Regions from separate parts of the Homo sapiens genome. Here region 1 is linked to region 2. Evidence: fine-mapped expression QTL. Tissue or cell type: blood mononuclear cells. Region 2 holds a variant in brackets; the other region holds the start of a gene. All regions are shown on one strand. Distances are from middle to middle.

Region 1 (11,295 bases), 62 kb after region 2:
GCCTAGAGTTTATCTGTTTTCACATGACATGAAAATAGCATGACCTGGGTAATTCATTTGACAAGTATTTACCTAGGACTCGTAAGTGCTTTTTATTGTTACAAGTAGAAGAAGACCATGCCATTATGCTTGTAGGTCTTTAAAGGACCTACAACCTAGTTGGAAATAATTATAGAATGGGATTAGATAGTATATATCATGATATCAACTTACTCATATTAAAGACCCTACTTTGTCTCTTTTTCTATTTTTTAATAATGCCTTAGATAAAAAGATGTAAGGGATCCTTGTTAAATACCTGGGAGACACAACGCTGGGAGTGAGAAATGGAAGACTAATATATTGACGATAGATAGTGATCCAGTAAACAAGAGCATTGTGCTGAAACTAACAAGTTGAAATTAACAAGAATAAATAGAAAGCCTTGCATTTAGTTTCAAAAATCCAGTAGCATAATTACAGGATGGGAGAAAGCTATAATGTCCACATTCAAAAAAAGTCTTGTTGACTTTTTATTTAATCTACACCGTCAGTTAGTATCTTAAAATACTACCGAGAACCAGGCACCATGTAGGCACTGGGGGACCTCACCACCTGATGCACCTGCAAACACAGATCTATTGGTCTCTAACGTGCAGCTGGAAGAGAAAATAAGCCTGCTTCATAGATCTCATCAGAAGGAGACACAACTCTCTAAGAAGGTCATATTTGATAAAATAGCCTGTAGAAGAGGGAGACTAGAGTGGTGAGTGACAGAAAAACCAGGCTGTACAGAAATATTGAGTGACCACAGGATGTTTAGTCTAAAGAAGAAAAGATTATAGGACTTTGATGGCTGTTTTCCAGCCTTTGGAGAGCTGTTGTGTGACTACAGGGGAGCCTTAAGACGTCTTTTGGGTTATTTCAGTTGGACCAATGCGGTGAAAGTTAGAAAGGACAGATTCATGTTGATGTCTTAAAAGTTTTCCTGCCAACCTTGGAAAAGGCTGCCTCTAAAATTGCAAGATTTCTAAAAAAGCTATATTGTCAGTGACTAGAATGGATGATCTCTAAGAATTCCTCTGATGCCAGTTTTTTTCATTTTTATTTTCCAAATTAAGTGGGAGGTAAGAGAACTTTTCATATACTTTCCTGAAGCCTTCAGACCTGCAAGAATTTTGCCAGCCCACAATTAATGAGTATGCTTCTCCATCTTCCCCACTTTCACTGGCTAAAACAACCTTGATTTAGTGAACAGAATGTCATAGTAAATATACTCCAACCATTAAATTACACCACTGACCCACTTAGGGTGAAACAGTTATTAAATTCTAAACTGTGTCTCCATTCATTCACCAGTTGGACATGTAAATACCAGTGCTGACCAGAACATACAAGAAGGGGAAAATCTTGCCTCAAAGTGAGGTAAATGGTGAGAGGAAGCTGACAGACCAGAGCCTAAGAGGTGGAGCACATAGAAGCTTCCACATACTGTCTGCAGCTCAAGAGGGAGTAATGGTGCCCTGAGCTGTGCAAATGCCAGAGGAAGGGAGGCACCTCTCAGCTCCCTGGAGCTACCCTAATATTTACTGTGGTGGTGTCTCCCAAGCTTCACAGTTCAAGCCAGCATCTTCGGAACACCTGCTATGATTTTAGATGAGCCCAGATGTCATCACACAGCTAAGAAGATAAACCATTACCACATTCTCAGCTGGCCATTTCTGTTGTTCACTTCTGACCAAGGAATACTTAGCCCAGAAGGTTGCCTTCAATGCAACAAAATGTACAGCTCTAGGGGAGGAAGACCAATTAAATACTTCTGTCAATAAGTTGCTGTCACCAAAAACTGTGAATTTACCTCTTTATTTTTTGCCAATTACATCATTTTGACATCATGTTAATTTTCCTGGGGAATCACTGTTTAGTTTAAAACAAGGAAGTTTTACTGCTCTAATATTGACATAGATTGACAAATAAACATAGAAGCCCAGTTTTTATTATTACCATTAACTAGAAGTCTTGTTACAGTGAGACAAGATATCTTGTTTTTAAGTTGAAGTGCCTAAATAATCTGAAAGTTATTTTGAATGATACTAACAACCACTTGGAAAAATCTGGTTAAAACATAGAGTTAAACTAAAAGATAAGATCAGTTGCATGATTGCAGAGTTACAGAGAATTTACAAGACTTTAAATAGTTACCGATAGTGATGCTTTTATACAGTGAGCAGGAATAGTAACATATTAATGTCTGGTAACTTTGTCAAGCTAAAAAATCATAATTATAGGACTGGACACCGTCGTTCAAGCCTGTGATTCCATCACTTTGGGAGCCCAAGACAAGAGGATCACTTGAGTCCAGGAGACCAGCCTGGGCAACATAGTGAGGCCTTGTCTCTACAAGAAAAAAAAAATTTAAAAATTGTCCAGGTGTGGTGGTGCCTGTGGTCCCAGCTACACCAGAGGCTGAGGTGGGAGAATTGCTTGATCCCAGGAAGTTGAGGCTGCACTGAGCTGTGATCATGCCACTGCACAACAGCCTAAGCAATTAAGGAGACGTTTTCTCAAAAACTAAAATTAAAAAAGGATCATAATTATGAAGGGGGAAAATGTGATATAGGTATTATGTATATAAAAACATAATGAGAAGCACCGTTATTTCTCATGAAGGCAAGTGCTTTCTATGAATCCATTGACAAGGAGGGTGCTGGGCAGCTAGTGATGATAATGGTGATAACCAAGAGGAAAATGTCACAGCAGAGCCAATTCCCTTTTTCCAACTCATTTAAGGACCCACCCACTATTGTGTTTAGACACCCCGTACACCAAAAGGCTAAGGTTGCTTCTGTACAACATATTCAAATAAACCATTCCAAGGTAGACTTCATTTTACTTGTAGAAAGCAACATTTTGCAGATGAGTTTTGTTTGGTTTGTCTCCGTCAATCAATTTTAAGCCAAATGTATAAACCATTTTAACAAGAGATGAATCATGAGGCACCTGAGAAGTAATACAAATATACCAGCTACAATGAATTTATTTAACCTTCACAGCAGTAGTTACTGTTACTATCCTGCTTTAACAGAGGAAGAAACTAAAGTGCAAGGGGTTTCGAGGAATTTGTCCAAGATGCATACAGCTAAGAATTGGCAGAGGAGGGATTTGAACTCACCTTGGCTGATGCCAAATCCAAGTACTTGATCATTAGGCTGTACCACCTCCCCAGTAATGTTACACAGGTAAAAATTAATCACGTGCCTAGTGTGTGCTGGGAACTGTGTTAAGCCCTTTATATACATTACCATGTTAACTTTGATAGTTGAGACATTTGGACACAGGTAAGAGGGATAACAAAAGAACCACTAGGTCGACTGTTCTATGTGTCTTTGGCATAATACCCTAGCTTGGATGAAATCTCTGTGTTACTTGAAATTGCAAGATTTTAGCAAAATCAGTTATTTTATGATTTCTTCCTTGCAGAGGTGGAATGGTGCAAACCAGTGAGCAGTATGAATTTGTGCACCATGCTCTGTGCCTGTATGAGAGCAGACTTTCAGCAGAGACTGTCCAGTGAGTCATTGAAGACTTGTCAGACCATCAATCTCTTGGGGTGATTAATCAAATTACCCACCCAAGGCTTCTAGAAGGAGCTTCCTGCAATGGAAGGAAGGAGAAGCTCTGAAGCCCATGTATGGCATGGATTGTGGAAGACTGGGCAACATATTTAAGATTTCCAGCTCCTTGTGTATATGAATGCATTTGTAAGCATCCCCCAAATTATTCTGAAGGTTTTTTGATGATGGAGGTATGATAGGTTTATCACACAGCCTAAGGCAGATTTTGTTTTGTCTGTACTGACTCTATCTGCCACACAGAATGTATGTATGTAATATTCAGTAATAAATGTCATCAGGTGATGACTGGATGAGCTGCTGAAGACATTCGTATTATGTGTTAGATGCTTTAATGTTTGCAAAATCTGTCTTGTGAATGGACTGTCAGCTGTTAAACTGTTCCTGTTTTGAAGTGCTATTACCTTTCTCAGTTACCAGAATCTTGCTGCTAAAGTTGCAAGTGATTGATAATGGATTTTTAACAGAGAAGTCTTTGTTTTTGAAAAACAAAAATCAAAAACAGTAACTATTTTATATGGAAATGTGTCTTGATAATATTACCTATTAAATGTGTATTTATAGTCCCTCCTATCAAACAATTACAGAGCACAATGATTGTCATTGGGTATATATGTATTTACTCTCTATTATTGGGCATAAAGGTGGCTTCTGCTCCAGAACTCTATCCACTGTATTTCCACATCGTGAGTCATTTTACTTTAAAAGGGAAAAACAAATTTGTAGCAACTCTGAAGTATCAAGAGTTTTAACTACTTGTCTCTCTTTTGCTAAGAAGGGATTTTTGAATATGCTATCTACCTGGAATCTCTCTCTCAACAAAAGGTATATGCCTTCAGGAATGATATAATCTGTCCCATTTTCGAGGCTCCTTATAAGGACATTTCCATGTATGTCCTTACATTTCTGAAAGCTTTCAATCTTCAAGAGACAAAAAAAATTAAAATAACTACCCTCAGCAAACACTAGCTGTTCTGCTCATATATGAATTTTTAATGCAGCAATGTTGACTTTGTTTCATACTGCCAATAAACTCTTAATACTAAATACTGAGTAAAGCATATTCTTTTTTTTTTTTCTATTTGGAAAGACGCCATCCTCTGTTTGGGGAAGACCAAAGTAGATAATGTGATGGGTTTAATTTTAGTGTCTGCATCTCCCCAGTGAAGATGACGATCTCAAAATGTAATATTGTCATCACTTGGGAGATAATGATCTAGAAGTGCCATCATTATGTGGTTTTCCTCAATAGACTCGCAGCATATCATTATACAAACAGTACATGTTTATGTCTTTATATCACTTGTCATAGACCCTCATCAATTACATGGCTTATGTTTATTCAGCAGAATCACATCACCTGAAGAGATGTAATGTTTCAGGAACATTCAATTATCTGAGATTTCAATTCCTTTCTTTCTTCTTGAGGTTAAGAAGCAGTCACATGCCAAAGGAAAGGTAGGTGAGGTCTTAACGAGATTTACTCTGCTCTTGAAGGCTGGAATATTTTCTACATTAAAAAAAAGAGGTAATCATAATCCCTTCTTTCTAAGGAAACAGACAAAAGGACACTGGTGTAAAACTTCCCCAAACAATTCAATAGGAGGAAGTGCTCGTCACTGACTTTTCCCCCCACCATGAAGGCACATTTCCTTCCTAGTCTTTGCTTCTCTTATCTGGGAGAATTTTTTTTTTCCCCAAGCGAAGCATGAACAGTTGCTAAGTGGAAAATGGAGGCTGAATTTTACATGGTGATTCTTACCTGCTTGATCTTCAGGAACTCAGGTGAGTGGGTCTGCCTCAGTGTCCTGAGGCATTTCTTCAAGATCTAGCCAAGGAGTCCCTGGTCTTTGAAGTGTCTGAAATAAGGTAGAAGGGGCCAGGTCTCCATGGCAGTTTAGCCAAAGACGATGAAAAGCAGGAATAAAAGGAGCCAGCTATGCCCATACTGTTGAGATTTCTCTCCAAAAGAAAATAAATGCTCTCCTCTCATCCTCCAAATGCTTCAGGCAGCCCCTGAAATGATACATTTAGAGCAGAGCGTAAAGAACCCCGAGGAAAAGTTTGTATTATTATATAACAGTCTGTGGCTTTCCCCAAGCCTTTTTCCGACCCGGTTATAGTTTTATTTTCTTTTGTGTTGAAGAAAGAAAATTGAAGGAATATGATTAAAGGGGGTGAGGAAATGTAGTGTGTTTTATTTGGAAGTTGTCATTTGGGAGGGCTGAACATTTTCATGAGCGAGCTGGGCAATTTAAGTAAAACCTCATTGAAAATGGTTTCTGAGCCAGAGTATCTTGCTCTTTAATACTGATGTTTAGCAATTTGATGTTTAATTTTCTTACACTGGCACATGATGATTTTTAGAAAATCTATTCGTATTTGAGAGAAAACTGTAGATATTGTCATAAAATAGAGAAATGCTCCTCTCCACGACTAAAGGAAATTTAGTTTGTGATAATCAATACTTTCATTGGCTGCAATTAGCTAGGAGGTTGTGCTTGGAGAAGTGGGAAAATTTGTTTTATTTTTTGATAAATGTATGCAATTTTAAAAAATTGTTATTCAAACTATGAAATTTGTATATAAATACTGCAATGTGAATTTAAAGACTGGAAAAGGGGGTGCTTTTTTAAGGTAAGGGAGGAAGCTTATATCGAATATGTCAAATGGTTAAAAAGGGAGCTGAGCATTTCATAACTTCAGCATATCTAACTAATTGGGCTAAAATATACTATATACTTTGGATGGTTTTGTTTCTTTCCAAGCTTCCTTTCATTTTCCAATAAGAGGTGTGCTTTTTTCCCCTAAAGCATGTGAAAATTAAAAAAAAAAAAAAGATGGGGAGTTAAGTGTAACATATTGACATTTTATATCGTCAGCTTTGGAATTTTAAATCACATGTGTTAAATATGAGAATGTTCACTTGAAATGATAGAAATAACAAAATATAAGTAAAACTAGTGATTTTATTTAGCTCATTTGTGGGTGGGTTCTTCCGTTTTCTAATGGGCCTCATAATTTGCTACATAGTGCTTTATGAGCTTTTCATCTTCCAGAAGGGTTTCAGATTGTCCATGTCCAGAAACAACAGTGTCTTTTCAAAAATGAGAAAGTGGTCGTGGGCTCATGCAACAGGACCATCCAGAACCAGCAGTGGATGTGGACTGAGGATGAAAAGCTCCTTCATGTTAAATCTGCACTGTGCTTGGCCATCTCCAACTCTTCCCGCGGCCCCTCCCGCTCAGCCATCTTGGACCGCTGTTCCCAGGCACCCCGATGGACCTGCTATGATCAGGAAGGCTTCCTTGAGGTGGAAAATGCCTCTCTCTTTCTCCAGAAACAAGGCTCCAGAGTAGTGGTCAAGAAGGCCAGGAAATACCTCCATAGCTGGATGAAAATAGATGTCAACAAGGAGGGAAAACTGGTCAATGAAAGCCTCTGTTTACAAAAAGGTGAGCTATTCCTTTCAGAGCAAATCCTGAAAGTCTTTCTACTAAATATCTTGGGGGTTTTGTTTGTTTGTTTGTTTGTTTGTTTTACATTTAAGGGAAGTCCACATGCCCCAACATATTTCCTATGGAAGATTCATAAGCTAATGGAGGTGGATGGTGACGTGCCCAATGATGGAAAACTTCATGACCCTCATTAAAATAAGCCCAACTTTTTCTATTGCTTTTTCTTCCTTCCCTTCTTGTCTTGCTTCTTTTATTAATTCAACAACTATTTCATGAGCCTCTCTTCTCTGCCAGTTAAGCACTGTTAGATGTAGGAATATGGATGTAGGCATATACACAGCCTATATATGTAATGACTAAAGTCAGTAATCGGAAAATTATTAGATTTTATTGACAGACACTTCTATTTGCTAATTATAATAAATTATTAGAACATCAGAATGGTGCTTGATAAGACTGGAAGATAGTTGTGTTTTTGCAAATCTCTTGTATTGCTGTTTAGGGGTAGATATCTTTTGGAGGTAACACACTTTTGAAATGTTAAGAATCAATGGGCAGCCACAGATTTTTCTAATTTATTGACCATTAATGGATATAACCCAGATAATGGACACATGTAGAAAATATGTTATACACATGTGCAAGCTCCTGGTGCAGGACACAGTTCAGTCCTGAGCTAGGAATTTTTGCTTGTGGAATATATAGGCAGTTTAATCTTCTCTTGAAGTTAATCATGCAATTGTGTATTTACTCTTCTATTAGAGGTTTGCTTTAGAAAGTCATGAAAGATAAAACTGATGAATCACAATATATTAGGCACCAATGAACCTTACAAAGCATGGGAAAAGTTATCAAGAAACGAAGCGCCTCACTAAGAAGACAAATTTTTCAGGGTTAAGTAAATTGTCCCAGATAAATTAGCAGCAGATCTATGATTAGAGCCTAAGTTTTTTGACTCTTTGTTCAGTGTACATTTTACTATACCAGAGGTTCCCAAATGCTTGACCACAGACTTGCCCCATGGCTTGCCTAAGAATCACCTGGGGTAGAAAAGGGAGGGCTTACTAAAAATACACATTCCCGTAGCTAATGCATCCTGGGCTTAATTCCTAGGTGATGGGTTGATAGGTGCAACAAAGCACCACGGCACACGTTTACCTATGTAACAAATCTGCACACCCTGCACATGTACCCCAAAACTAAAAATAAAAATTTAAAAAAAAATACACATTCCCAGGATTCTTTCCCACCATTTTTTCCTCTACAACCACCTCCAAGATTCTGTTTCAGGAAATCTGGATTTGTGCATAATACTTGATATTTATTAATCACCAGAAAATTTTGATCCATAATCCAATATGGAGATCAGCATCCACTGTATTGTTAAGTCTTTTCCTTAGGTGTTGATTTGTGAGGCTTATATTAGTCTTTCCACCATGGTAATCTTTGGACAATTTTTTCTCACTCATTCATTCTGTAAGTTAAAACAAGCATTTAACTAGATGCCATTTGAATGTGTTATGCTTTTCTACAATAAGTGGTATGCTTTGCTACAATAAAAGTTGAGAGTTATAGTTTCTGTTCTTATATCATTTCTGCCTATGAGAAAAAAACCTACTCAAAAATTCAACTTTATCAGAAAATATTCAGCATATAGCACCAATTTGTACAATACCTTTCCTGTGGTTCATCTATCAAGGCCTCTCCTAAATAATATAGAAACATTATAACTGTTCCATTTTTACTGTTTTACACAAGAAGTGAGATTCATCCCCAAACCCCAATCAAACCTTATTTAACATAAGATTACTTAGTTGGAACTTTAAAAAAAAGTAGATATGGACTCAGTGGTGAGTTATTCAAGATAAAAGATAATTCATAGAAAAACTACCTCCTATGACCCTCATACAAATATGTCTAGTAATAGACTTCGAAAATAAGGTAACTAGAATAAGCCATTTGCAATTAACCACTGAACAATGCTATATTCAAAAAATGCCTGATAATATGTGTTGGGGAAAGAAATTAATTTCTAGAAAAAGCAGAAGTTAAAATTTGCACAATTGTGGTACAAAAACACCCTTATATTTGAGTACACATAAGTATAACACATACTTTTGCTTTAACACAATTATAAGCTAACAGATATATTTTTCTGCTCCATCTTAAATATGCCATTGTGGGGTTTTTTCTTTTTGTTTTTGTTTTTTCTTTGGTTTTTGTTTTTAGAAACAAAGTCTTGCTCTGTTGCCCAGGCAGGAGAGCCATGGTGTGATCATAGCTCAATGTAGCCTCCAACTCCTGGGCTCAAGTGATCCTCCCACCTCAGCCTCCCAAAGTACTGGGATTACAGGCATGAATCACCATGCCCAGCCCTGATAAAAGTTTAAGAATAATACTTGTAGACCTATATCATGAGAGCTCACTGACTTGCTAGAGTAGCTACTGTGAAAAATTAACCGAAATGCATTCATATGTTTGCAATGAGTGATTTCAAATCATTGTTTAAGTTGGTAACTAAGTATTATAATCTACAGCAGCACAAATACATGTGTTGTTCATCTATGGGATGTGAATTTTTTTGTGTGTTCTTCCATGAAAGAAAGCAGACCTATGAAGGTAAAAATCTAAGCCACATGTTTCATATTTGTTTCATAAAAGACACATTAATGATTGTATTCAAGTTTCCAGGTAATATTTATTTAACACCTACTATGTGCCAGAGCTTGTGCTAGCACTCAGGTACCCTGTGCTAGTACTAAGGTGCCCTCCACAAGTGATTTTTGACCCAAGCTGCATATTAGACTCACATGGCAGCTTTTAACTAATACTAGAGTATAAAACCTGAGCTTTATCCTCTAAGCTGACTAAATGAGGTATTGTATTTTTAAAGTACTTCCTAGGTGATTCTGATGTGCAGCCAAGGTTGCAAATCATTAAATACATCTTATTCCTTAAAGTAATGGGGAAATCAGATAAGTAAATAAATAGGTAATTACAATAGAATGTAGAGAGAAGAAAGTACTTTCCTTTCCAATATATGTCCTTGCCAGTATGTCACATTAAGCACTCATTCCTTTTTTTTTTTTAATTATACTTTAAGTTCTAGGGTGCATGTGCACAATGTGCAGGTTTGTTACATAGGTATACGTGTGCCATGTTGGTTTGCTGCACTCATCAACTCGTCATTTACACTAGGCATTTCTCCCAGTGCTATCCTTCCCCCAGTCCCCCACCCCCCGACAGGACCCAGTGTGTGATGTCTCCTGCCCTGTGTCCAAGTGTTCTCGTTGTTCAATTTCCACCTATGAGTGGTACACGCGGTGTTTGGTTTTCTGTCCTTGTGATAGTTTGCTGAGAATGATGGTTTCCAGCTTCATCCATGTCCCTGCAAATGACATGAACTCATCATTTTTTATGGCTGCAATAGTATTCCATGGTGTATATGTGCCACATTTTCTTAATCTAGTCTACCATTGATGGACATTTGGGTTGGTTCCAAGTCTTTGCTATTGTGAATAGTGCCACAATAAATATACACGTGCATGTGTCTTTATAGTAGCTTGATTTATAATCCTTTGAGTATATACCCAGTAATGCAATCACTGGGTCAAATGGTATTTCTAGTTCTAGATCCTTGAAGAATCACCACACTGTCTTCCACAGTGGTTGAACTAGTTTACACTCCTACCAACAGTGTAAGTGTTCCAATTTCTCCACATCCTCTCCAGCATCTGTTGTTTCCTGACTTTTTAATGATTGCCATTCTAACTGGCAAGAGATGGTATCTCATTGTGGTTTTGATTTGCATTTCTCTGATGACCAGTGATGATAAGCATTTTTTCATGTGTCTGTTGGCTGCATAAATGTCTTCTTTTTAGAAGTGTCTGTTCATATCCTTTGCCCACTTTTTGATGGGGTTGTTTGTTTTTTTCTTGTAAATTTGTTTAAGTTCTTTGTAGATTCTGGATATTAGCCCTTTGTCATATGGGTAGATTGCAAAAATTTTCTCCCATTCTGTAGGTTGCCTGTTCACTCTGATGGTAGTTTCTTCTGCTGTGCAGAAGCTCTTTAGTTTAATTAGATCCCATTTGTCTATTTTGGCTTTTGTTGCCATTGCTTTTGGTGTTTTAGTCATGAGGTGTTTGCCCATGCCTATGTCCTGAATGGTATTGCCTAGGTTTTCTTCTAGGGTTTTTATGGTTTTAGGTCTAACATTTAAGTCT
Region 2 (11,295 bases):
TGTCATTAGAATTGAACAATTTTGACCCAAAGTTGTTTATATTCTCTTGCTGAAATGGATGTGTCGCCCTGGCCCATAATATTTATACATATTTTCCTTTTTAGTTAATTATAATTAGCATGCTGTTTATTGCATTCCTTTTACCTTTCCCTAAGAATTTGCTTTTTCCTTCAATTGTTTGCATTGGTATCTTTTGAATTTCCTCCCTCTTATTTATTTTTTGGCATAAATAATAATTGGTGCTGCAGCAGGAGCTTGATAAAGCTTTTTATTATGTTCCCTTTTGTCCAACAGCAATCATGAGGCATTAAAAAGGCTAAACAGTTTGCCCACAGTTCCAAGACAAAATAAAAGTAAAGCTTTCAGTAGAGTTCGTTTTCTTGCTTTCCACATTCCTTTTTTATTAAAGGTATAGTTCTCCTATTATTTATGTTGATTTTTTTTCTAAATTCTGTCAATTTTTTTATACGTCTTAATTAGAATTTTCCCATAAGTTTATATGTTTATCTTGTTTTTGAAATGTCTTTCTGACTGTAATATATAAATGGTTATTATTTAAGTCAGTTAGCATGAAAATGCTTCCACAGCTCTCTGCTTACCACAGAATCCTTAGAAAATTAACTCATTAAATCAAATAGACCTTAGACACGGGATGTCAAAGGCTTCTAATCTCCCAGGTTTAGGCAGCGTATACTGTGGGAAGTCAAAACAGAAATTAATACACCCTGATGATGTTCTGGATCCTCTTTTATCTGGCTTTTTTTTTCGTTATTTATGTATTTATTTATTTATTTATTTTTGACATGGGGTCTCACTCTGTCACCCAACCTGGAGTACGACAGTGGTGCAATCTTACCTCACTGCAGCCTCGAACTCCTGGGCTCAAGCAATCTTCCGGCCTCATCCTCCCGAATAGCTGAGACTACAGGCAAGCACCACAACACTTAGCTATTTTATTTTTTGTAGAGACAGGGTCTTGCTATGTTGCCCAAGCCAGTCTCAAACTCCTGGCCTCAAGTGATCCTCCTGCCTCAGTCTCCCAAAGTGCTGGGATTACAGATGTCAGCCAACATCCCTGGACTATTTTTGGGCTTTTTATAGTCTTATAGTGTCTATGACTGTTGCTTCTCTCTCATCTCTCTTACATAAGCCTGCTCCCCAATTTCAAAATACATTTTTATACAAGAGAACTCTAGCTCAAACTGCTTCTATGCTGTTCTTCAAAGTTGTATTAATTTATTCTCCTACACTTTTTTTCCTACCAGATTCTTTAACTCTAGACCAAAAACTCACCTATTAAACGTTTGCTTTCAAAGCCCAACTTAAATGACTTCTACCTCATGAATCTGCTCTGACCACTCCAGATGGAAGAGATCTCACCATCTATAGCACAAGCATCACTCCATTGACAGAGGGCAGACAATTTTGTCTCTTGAGGCTGAAAATTTGACTGAATGGCATGGTGATTTTAAAGGGCATAGGACTAGCCATCCCTTAAGCGGCCTCTCTCACCTTCATACTAAAATATCTATAAAGCTTGCAAAAGCTGAATTCTCACAAATGCCCTAAATATTAAGACCAATCGGCAAACTATTATCAGAATCCGTAAGGATTTTCTATCAATTTGAAGTCCAGAACTGAACTGAAAAACTTTAAAAACTACTTTCCCACTAAAAATAGATTAAATTCTTGGTCCATGAGTAGAACCATTCTTTGCTCTTCTTCAACTATTTGCCTCCTACTCAGAAGCACAGGAACCCTATCAACCACCACCAAAAACCAAATAAGAAAAAGTGGAGTGGGAAAAATATCCCTCTATTAGGTAGGCAGGATTTTATGAGCATCTAGAATAAATGCTATTCCCTAATCCCTAACCCAGTGATCCAAAAGAGTTAAGAAGAATAATAGGATGAGAAAAAGTTTTCAGAAACATACCCCCCAAAACATATAGGCATATCAATATTCATTTTTTAAAGCCAGATGTGAGGGCAAATATAAAATTAACAGGAAAGAAAGTAATATTGGTAACATTTATAGTGAAGATATGACTAAATCCCTTCAAATAACACAATGGCTGCAATGTACAAGGTAAAAACTGTTAGAAGGAAAAATAACAAGCATAATTATTGTGGAAGACTCACATACATATCTCAGGCTTTGACAAATCCAGTAGAAAAAAAAAAAGGAAGGAAAGAATAGGTTGGAATAAAGTAATATCTTCAATAAAATAATGGTATAATAAATAAGGTGATATATATGTATATATGTGCAGATAGATACTTATGAACATATACAGATAATCAAACTAGATGCCAGCAAAACATCTGTGAAATATTTAGAAAATGATGTAGTGTTTATCTCGAAAAAAAATCAAGTAGTTTCAACCATTAAAAGGCCAGCCATTCTCTAATTTCCACAACTATAACTAGAAATTATAAGGAAAATAAATGTCTAAACTTACAGATATCCATCAAATTAAAGTAGAAATTAAAATCTCAATTACAAACCATTTAGAAATTAACAAAAATGACATTACATATCAAATTATAGAATGACAACAAAAATGCAACCAGAGGCAGATTCATCAGAGAAGAAAACTGATAGATTTTCGTTAATGGATTTTGTTGTTGTTGTTGTATATTCCAATAATTTTCCACTGTTTGAAATTAAGCTCAAGCCACTGTAATATTTCTTAATGTCGCATTCCAGAGTAAGTATTAAAATACCAGAGGGAATAATTTGCTGGGCCTAGCATCTACTCTTACTGTCTTTACTCTCACATATTTTGGCCTGTTTTTCCCTGCTCTCTACTTCCTTGAGCCGCCAACTGCTTGGCACTATATTTGATCTGACACACACCTACGGCCCCTTTAAATGTAACAGTTTTTGTAAACACCATCTCTGACTTCAATCCTCAGTCTCTCACATGCTATTTCATAGTTACCCCTTGGTCCACACAGCTAATATTACTTGTAAAAGGCATCCTCACTTCCTACTCAGGACTCAGGGTCTGTGTAAGTTGTAAGAGCATCCCCTTGCCCCCCAGCGGGAAAAGGGGAATTATGAGAGGAAGATAAATTGTAACTCATTTTAAGGGTCTGTGATTTCTATGGCCCCTTATAAGTTTACCACAAAATTAAATGAATTCGTGTGTCAATTCACATATGCGTGCATACATATACACATAAATAGAGGATACAGAAGCCATCTTTTTTTATTTTTATCTATTGTTTTATTTATTTATTTTAGAGCCAAGGTCTCTCTCTGCTGCCCAGGCTGGAGTACAGTGGCACCATCACGGCTCACTGCAGCCTCAACCCCCCGGGCTCAAATGATTCTCTCACCTCAGCCTCCCTAGTAGCTGAGACTACAAGTGTGGGTCACCACATCCAGCTACTTTTTGTATGTTTTGTAGAGACAGGGTTTTACCATGTTGCCCAGGTTGGTCTTGAACTCCTGAACTCAGGCAATCCACCCACCTCAGCCTCCCAAAGTGCTGGGATTGCAGTCATGAACTACCTCATCTGGCCCCAGAAGCCATTTTTTAGGGATTCACTCAGAAGATATAGATATAGATATAGCTTTTCCTAATTTTTTTTTACTTAATTTTTCACTTAATATTATTAGCCAACCTATGATTTCTGTAATAAGTATATGCATTCATAAATTATAGCATATTTTCTCAATTTAGAGTTCTTTCCAACAACAAAATTGTTATTTTCCTGTGAAGGAACTATGGGTAGTTGCTATGGCCAACCATGATACTAAAAGAGAAAATATAGTTGGTTGTTATTTCTGTAAAAGTTCTCACTGAATTGTGTGCATGTACAGAAAGACAAGTTTTTGCAATCAAAATAAGTATGTGGTGTTTAAACATAACATTCTTCTCCAATGTAGAAGAGGGTCCAACGTATCTCTTACATTGGACATGAGTAGCTTGGGGAACATTGAACCCTTTGTGTCTATACCAACACCACGGGAGAAGGTAGCAATGGAGTATCTGCAGTCAGCCAGCCGAATTCTCACAAGGTCTCAGCTGAGGGACGTCGTGGCAAGTTCACATTTACTCCAAAGTGAATTCATGGTGAGCCTTCTATTTATTGTTCACTCTTCAGTCGGTATTTTGATACATGGGGCACTAGAGACGTATGGAAATGATACTGTCCTATACTTAAGCAGTCTACAGTAAACAAATGGCAAAGTGAAATGGTTTTAGATTCACTCAGTCTCATCCACTATTGATAAGTATTAAAATTGGAATGTAGAGCTAAATTAAGGCAGAATATGCAAGAATTGGTGAGGCAAATAAGTGGTATAGGGAGCTGGGCAGAGAAGGGGCATTCCAGGACAAAGAATAGCCTTGCTGTCACTGTCTGGGGAATTAAACTGTTCAGTTTAACTGGAACATTGAAATCAAGGTGGGAAGTGGCAAAAGTTGAGCCTCAGAAGTATAAAAGAAACCCTAGCCTTAATATATGTTTAGGAGCTTGGACTTTATCTTATGTTTTGGATAGATCATTCTATTTGCAGTGGAGTAGGCACTAAAAGGGAGCAGTTTAGAGGCTCTAGTGTTAATCCTGTGGAACTGCGTTGGTGGCCTAAACTAATATAGTAGAAGGGAAAATGGAAAGAATCTGTAGGAATCTACAAGAAGTGGGATTAATTGAATGAGGCAGCCAAAAGTAATGGAAAAGTCAGGGATTGATATTCGTGTTTTTGGTTTGGCCAACAGGGTGCATATGGTGCCCTTTAACGAAATAAGGAACACAGGAGGAAGACCAAGTGTGGGCTAAAAAGAATGATGAATTCAGTTTTAGACATACCAGTGTTGCTAGTGAAAGCTTAAAGCATGATAACATACATCAACTCAGAGAACATGAAGTAAGATTAAACCTTCTTAGGTCTAATTGTTGCCCAAGGAGAATATTGACTTTGTTGATCACCTCTTGCATCTTAAGCCGTATTGGTTGAGTACAATAAATTGATTATTAGTTCAGGCATTTGCAGCCATCCTAATGGTGACAGATTCAGCAATGGGTTGGATCTACTATTAGCCCCATCAACTATTATTAAGTGTCCAAAGTAAAATACAAACATGAAAATCAGACTCTGTGGTGTATCATATTTTACATGTGAAGAAAATGAGACCTGTAGGAATGAAAGAACAAGTCAGTGGTCACACAGCTAGCCAAAGGCACACCTAGAGCTTTTTTTTTCTAGAACTGCAGACAGCTCTTTGTTTATGAAATAAGACCTTACCATAGCCCACTTTCCTGAAAGGAAATTGAAGGCCAGAAGGAGTACACAGGAGAAAGAGAATGCTGGAAGATGACAGACTGTCAGTGTGTGTCAGAAAACAGAAGGTGAGAAGGAAGAAGGGGAGGAATAAAGATATTACCTTTGTGGCTTTGCCCAAAGACACTGACGTGCTTGAAATTACCAAACATGAACATGTGTTTTCCATTGAATATTCAACAATTTTGCTTATTTTTATAACTTGGAACAAACAGGTTAAAACATTTAGTTGGAGCAGAGAATAGGGATAAATATCATGGATAGCTAGCATAATGCAGGTAAAGGAAAAATTATTTTAAAAATAAGTAACTTGGGGCCAGGTGTTGTGGCTCATGCTTGTAATCCCAGCTACTCAGGAAGCTGAGATGGGAGGATGCCTTGAGCCCAGGAGTTTGAGGTTACAGTGAGCTATGATTGTGCCACTGCACACTGACCTAGGTGACAGAGTGAGATCCCATCTCTAAAAATAAATTAATTAATAAACGAATAGCTGTTTCTCTCTGTAGAACAAGCCTCAAATTCATAGTATAGTCCAGCTTTTCTCAAATTTTCAGAATGACTGAAAACTAGGATAATTTGAATGAATTTAAAGATGATTTCTTCTATTTCAATCAATATTAGACTGTTAAGTTAAATTTTCTACTGGAGAAAGTTTAAGTAGTAAAAATATCTTATTTGATCAAATATTTAATGTTTATCAGTCATTAAATAACATAAAAGTTATTTTGTTCATGTTAATCTTATCAAAGTTAGAGAACATACTATTTTGTATAATCAAATCTTTAAACAAATGTTTGTTTGGACCCTTTTGAAAACTTTGGCTTGTTGCTTTATTTGTCCTGGTTAGCTACAGATACACACCTTTTTAGATCTAATGCACTTACATACAGCCACTCTTTTCCTATTGTTCCCTGTCCAATCACTTGAGGCATATAATGTATACTCTGATAAAATAAGAATAGTAATGTTCTTAAGTGGGAGAAACAGTGTTTGAATGCCCTTCACTAAAAACAGTGCATTTATAACTTAAAATGGAACAGTCCAGTTATAAACCATTTCTTAATTCAAAAAAAAGTCATGTCATCACTTGAATTAACAAAAAAGCCCTTTATATTTACCATTTTGGGAAAGAGGTTTTAATAATCCTAAAAGAGTCACTATTAGTGTGAAAAGATAATCTATTATAGTAAAATTTTTGGTACTAAAGTTATGTAAAAACTGGAATATATTTGAATACATTGTTTTTTAAAAAAATTCACTTTTTAGCATCTGTCTAATCTTTCTAGCAATTATGTCACAGCAGGATTCTTAAAATCTAACCAGTGTTATATGTCTCCTTACTGACTACATATTAAGCAATATTTTCTAACACACAGAGCTGTTTCTTAGAAGTCAGCTTGTCCGGATGCAGCTGATATGTTTAGGAAAGGAAGGGTGTTGGTCCACC[A/T]GAGGTGCTAGATCTGTTGTTTTTAAGTGGCTTTGAAGTCCAATAGAACTCTGGATCAGATGCCCCCCTGTGAAGATTTTCTTTGTGGCAGTATTAGATACACTAATTTGATATTATTTATTTTTGCAGGAAATACCAATGAACTTTGTGGATCCCAAAGAAATTGATATTCCGCGTCATGGAACTAAAAATCGCTATAAGACCATTTTACCAAGTAAGCTTCTTGATTTTATAATTTGCATTGTATGGGGGGCAAGGGGAGGGATAGCCATTAGGAGAAATACCTAATGTAGATGATGGGTTGATGGATGCAGCAAAAGCAAACCACAATGGCACATGTATACCTATGTAACAAACCTGCACATTCTGCACATGTATCCCAGAACTTAAAGTATAAATAATAATAATAATTTACATTGTAAAGCACAAGACAAGTCTTCCCATTAACCCTTACCTCAGCATTTCCAATTCTTACAACACCCACTTCATATCAAATTTGGAATTACAAACACATGTCAAGACTAATAATCATTAAAACTATCTGAAGTTAATGATTTTACCTTTTTACTCTTATTATAATGTCCAGGTCACAATTCCAATAGACACATATTCTAAAATTTTGTTGTGCCACACATTATGGCTACCTGATTTTTGTCAAGGGTCAAACAATTCAATGGGAAAAAGAGAGTCTTTTCAACAAATGGAGCAGAAACAACCAGATATCCACATGCAAAAAAATGAAGTTGAAGACAAAAATTGACTCAAAATGGACCAGAGACCTACACATAAGAGCTAGAACTACAAAACTCATAAACGAAAACAGCTGTAAATCTTTATGACCTTGAATTAGTCAGTGGTTTCTTAGATAAGCCAACAAAAGCACAAACAGCAGCAAAAAAAAATTGAACTTCATTAATACTAAAAATTTTGTGCTTCAAAGGATACCTTCAAGGAAGTGAAAAGACAACTCATAGAATGGAAGAAAATAAATATTTGCAAATCATGTATCTAATAAGGGACATGTAGCTACAATACGCAAATCTTACAACTCAATAATAGAAACACAAACAACCCAAAAAATGGACAAAAGATTTCAATGGATATTTCTCCCTAGAAGATGTACAAATGACCAACAAGCATATTAAAAGATGTTTAACATCACTAGCCATCAGTGAAATCAAAACTACAGCAAGATAGTACTTTATATCCATGAGGATAACTATAATTTTAAAAATAGACAATAAAAAATGCTGGCAAGGATGTAGAGAATTGGAAACTTAACACTACAGTTTTAAGTACAGCTACAGCTACTTAGGAAAACAGTTTGGCAGTTCCTTAAAAGATAAAACTGAGTTGCTATATGACCTGGACACTCTACTTCTAGGTAAATATTACCTAAAAGAAATGAAATGTGTTCACACAAAAATGATACAAAAATATTTATAACAGCATTATTCATAATAGCCAAAGAGTGGCAACCATCAGCTGAGAAATGGATAGATAAAATGTAGTATAGTCACACAATAGAATCAATAAAAAGGAACAAGGCACTGATGAACCTTGAATGAACCTTGAAAACATCATGCTAAGTGAAAGAAGCCAGGCACAAAAGACCTCATATTTTGTAGTCCATTTATATGAAATGTCCAGATAGCTAAATCTATACAGACAGAAAATATCTTAGTGGTTGCTTAGCATTAGGGGATATGGAGAATGACTGCTAAAGGACCTGTATTTATTTTGGGGCTAATTGAATGTTATAAAATTGATTTACAGTGATTGTTGCACAGCTCTGTGAAAATTTAAAAAAAAATGCTGTGATGGCACATGAAATGGGGGGATTGTATGGAATGTGAATTATTTCTCAATAAAACTATTACCAAAAAAATGTTGCTGTGCATGACAATGACCTGGAGTCCTTGTTAGTCCTGTGCCCAACCCCAGGGATTTTGTTTAAGTAGATCTGCTGTTGAGCACAGAAAACTACTTTTAGCAAACACCTAGGTGATTCCAATCCAGATGAAACCAGGATCCACTTTGAGAACCACTACTATATGTGAAACTAGATTGAGCTTCATGGAATTTATTAACGTCAAGCAATGACCTGAATGCCAGGGACCAGTAAGAAATAAGAAACAGTCTATAAAATCAAGGAGGTCACAGACTAGAAACGAGAGTCATATAAATGGTAATTATGCTCAGTGCATAGGCCAGAATAAAGATACTGCCCAAGCAGTGTAGGAGTTCAGAGAGGACTGAGTAATTAATTCTGTCCAGAGAAATTAGGCAAAAAAAAAAAAATGGAGAGGAAGTAATATTTTCTATGACTAAACAAACAGATATAGTTGGAGTTTTGGCAAAATCAGTAAACATCTCACGACAAAGCTCAGGAAAGATGGAGCCACAAAGTCTTTTTAACTTTTGACATTGAAATAGCAATCTTCATAATTTAGTTCATTAATTCATTCATAAGACACCAAATTCTTTATATTCATAGTAATGGTGATGTAATAAAGTAATTAAACAATTACTGTTAATACTATCTTTGGCCTTCCCCTTCTGGTGGAATTGGAAATACATTGTTAAACTATAACATATTTTTAACTGCTCTATATAGTTAAATTTATTTACCTAAGGTAGAGTCACCATTGAAGGTTATTTTATGACTATACTTGGCCAAAGGGGATGAAAGTGCTGCGTGTTAGAATTTGTGTTTTCTCTCTCCCTCTCTCTCTCTCTGTTAAATTTTTATCTAAAATATACCAAACATAAGTAATAAGGGAATATACCTCCATCACAATTATATATACCCAAACCATCATCTAATTTTAGAAGGATTTGGAAATTATTAGCATTAGTTCAAAGTTCAGCCTTCTCCATTTCCTGCCCAGATGATATCAGACAACTGCTTCATAGTCCTGTGTCAGTTTTTCCGTTCACAGAACTGGGTGGACCGCTGGATTCAGGGCACCTGTGCTGACAGCTGATGTTGCAAATGATGGATTTTCTGTTGAAAATGTCTGCAGGCTGAATGCCCCACCCACCACCCTCTGTTGCACAAAATATAATTTAGGAAATATAGCTTAGAAAAGCCACACTATTGGGTGAAAGCATCCAAAAAGCCTGGAATGAATACACAAAGATGTTCTTTATGGTTTTAGACTGTAATATGAGATAAACTTGAAATATTACATAAAATGATGATTATTAAATGATCAAGAATTTAAACATTATGATTGTTTTTAGTTTTAACCTACACTAAACTCTTCTTAGTTCTAAAAGCTTGACAGCTTGTACATAATAGCAACATTATACAATTCTGAGAATGCCTTGCAACAGATATATGGATAGGCAAGAATCAATTATGAATAAATCAATTTATAATTATAAATTAAATTATAGTCATTTCTCTAATGACAGTGTTATCTTGGCTGAGATTAAAATGCTAAAGTCAAGTTTATATCAAATTATTTTGCAGTGTAAACAAATATTAGTGATAAAAATATGTCTACATCCTAAATCACAAAAGTAGTAGGAAAAAACAATCATACATCAATAGAAAATTATTAGCAGACAATAAAATATAATACTGTAATAATAATCATACATCAATAGAAAATTATTAGCACACAATAAAATACTGTAATAATAAGTTTAAATTTTTTATTTTTACTTTAGATTCAGGGGGTACCTGTGCAGGTTTGTTACAAGGGTATATTGTGTGATGCTGCCGTTTGGGCTTCTTCTGACGGCATGACACCCAGAGAGTGAACATAGTACCCAATAGGAAGATTTTCAGCCCTTCTCCCTTTCCCTCCCTCCCTTTTTTTGGAGTCCCAGTTACTATTGTTTTCATCTTTATGTCTATGTGTATCCAGAATTTAGCTCTCACTTATAAGTGAGAACATGCAATATTTGGTTTTCTGTTCCTGTGTTAATTTGCTTAGAATAATGGCCTCCAGCTGCATCCATGTTGCTGCAAAGGACATGATTTTGTTCTTTTTTATGACTTCATGGTGTTCCATGGTGTATGTGTACCACATTTTCTTTATCCAATCCACTGTTGATGGGCATCTAGGTTGTTTCCATGTCTTTGTTATTGTGAATAGTGCTGCACTATAATAATAAATTGTATGCATATTTCTTTTATGCAGTGTGTTGATACAAATATAAGATAATATAGATACACTTAAAGAATGCCATTTACTCAGGTCATCATTTTATATTTAAAATTTTAACATCTAATAATGTTTCCTACTTAAATTATGTTTCCTTTTTTATTATATAAAGTACCTAGCACAGAGTAGATATGCAAATAAGTGAACCACTCATTAAAGCAACAAGTTATGTAGCTAAAGCAAGATACTGGAATTAGATTTGATTTCCTACCCCAACAAAAACATTTATAATTTTTGGCAGGATATTTAATCTCCCTATGCCATCCTTTATTCCCAAAAGTAGTGATAACAATACTCTCCTACAAGGCTACCGAGAAAATTAAATGATAGTATGTGTAAAATGTCTGTCAAAGTTCCAACTAATAGTAAGCCCTC

What was found. PIP is the estimated chance that this variant, and not a neighbour inherited with it, causes the effect.
Region 1: it holds the start of PTPRB, and the variant in region 2 is fine-mapped to the expression of PTPRB in blood mononuclear cells (TOPMed, PIP 0.96).

What each region holds. Positions count from the first base shown.
Region 1 is chr12:70,631,442-70,642,736 of GRCh38, reverse strand. It overlaps PTPRB (protein tyrosine phosphatase receptor type B), which reads left to right and starts at 5,308. Exons shown (of 34, transcript NM_001109754.4): 1 at 5,308-5,396; 2 at 6,671-7,066. The coding sequence starts at 5,342. It overlaps PTPRR (protein tyrosine phosphatase receptor type R), which reads left to right. Exons shown (of 14, transcript NM_002849.4): 14 at 3,460-4,658. The coding sequence ends at 3,553.
Region 2 is chr12:70,693,926-70,705,220 of GRCh38, reverse strand. PTPRR (protein tyrosine phosphatase receptor type R) reads left to right here. Exons shown (of 14, transcript NM_002849.4): 7 at 3,898-4,084; 8 at 6,872-6,956. Among named protein-coding and RNA genes, the nearest start is that of PTPRB, 62 kb to the right of the region's middle. The variant A/T (reference allele first, on the strand shown) is at 6,743.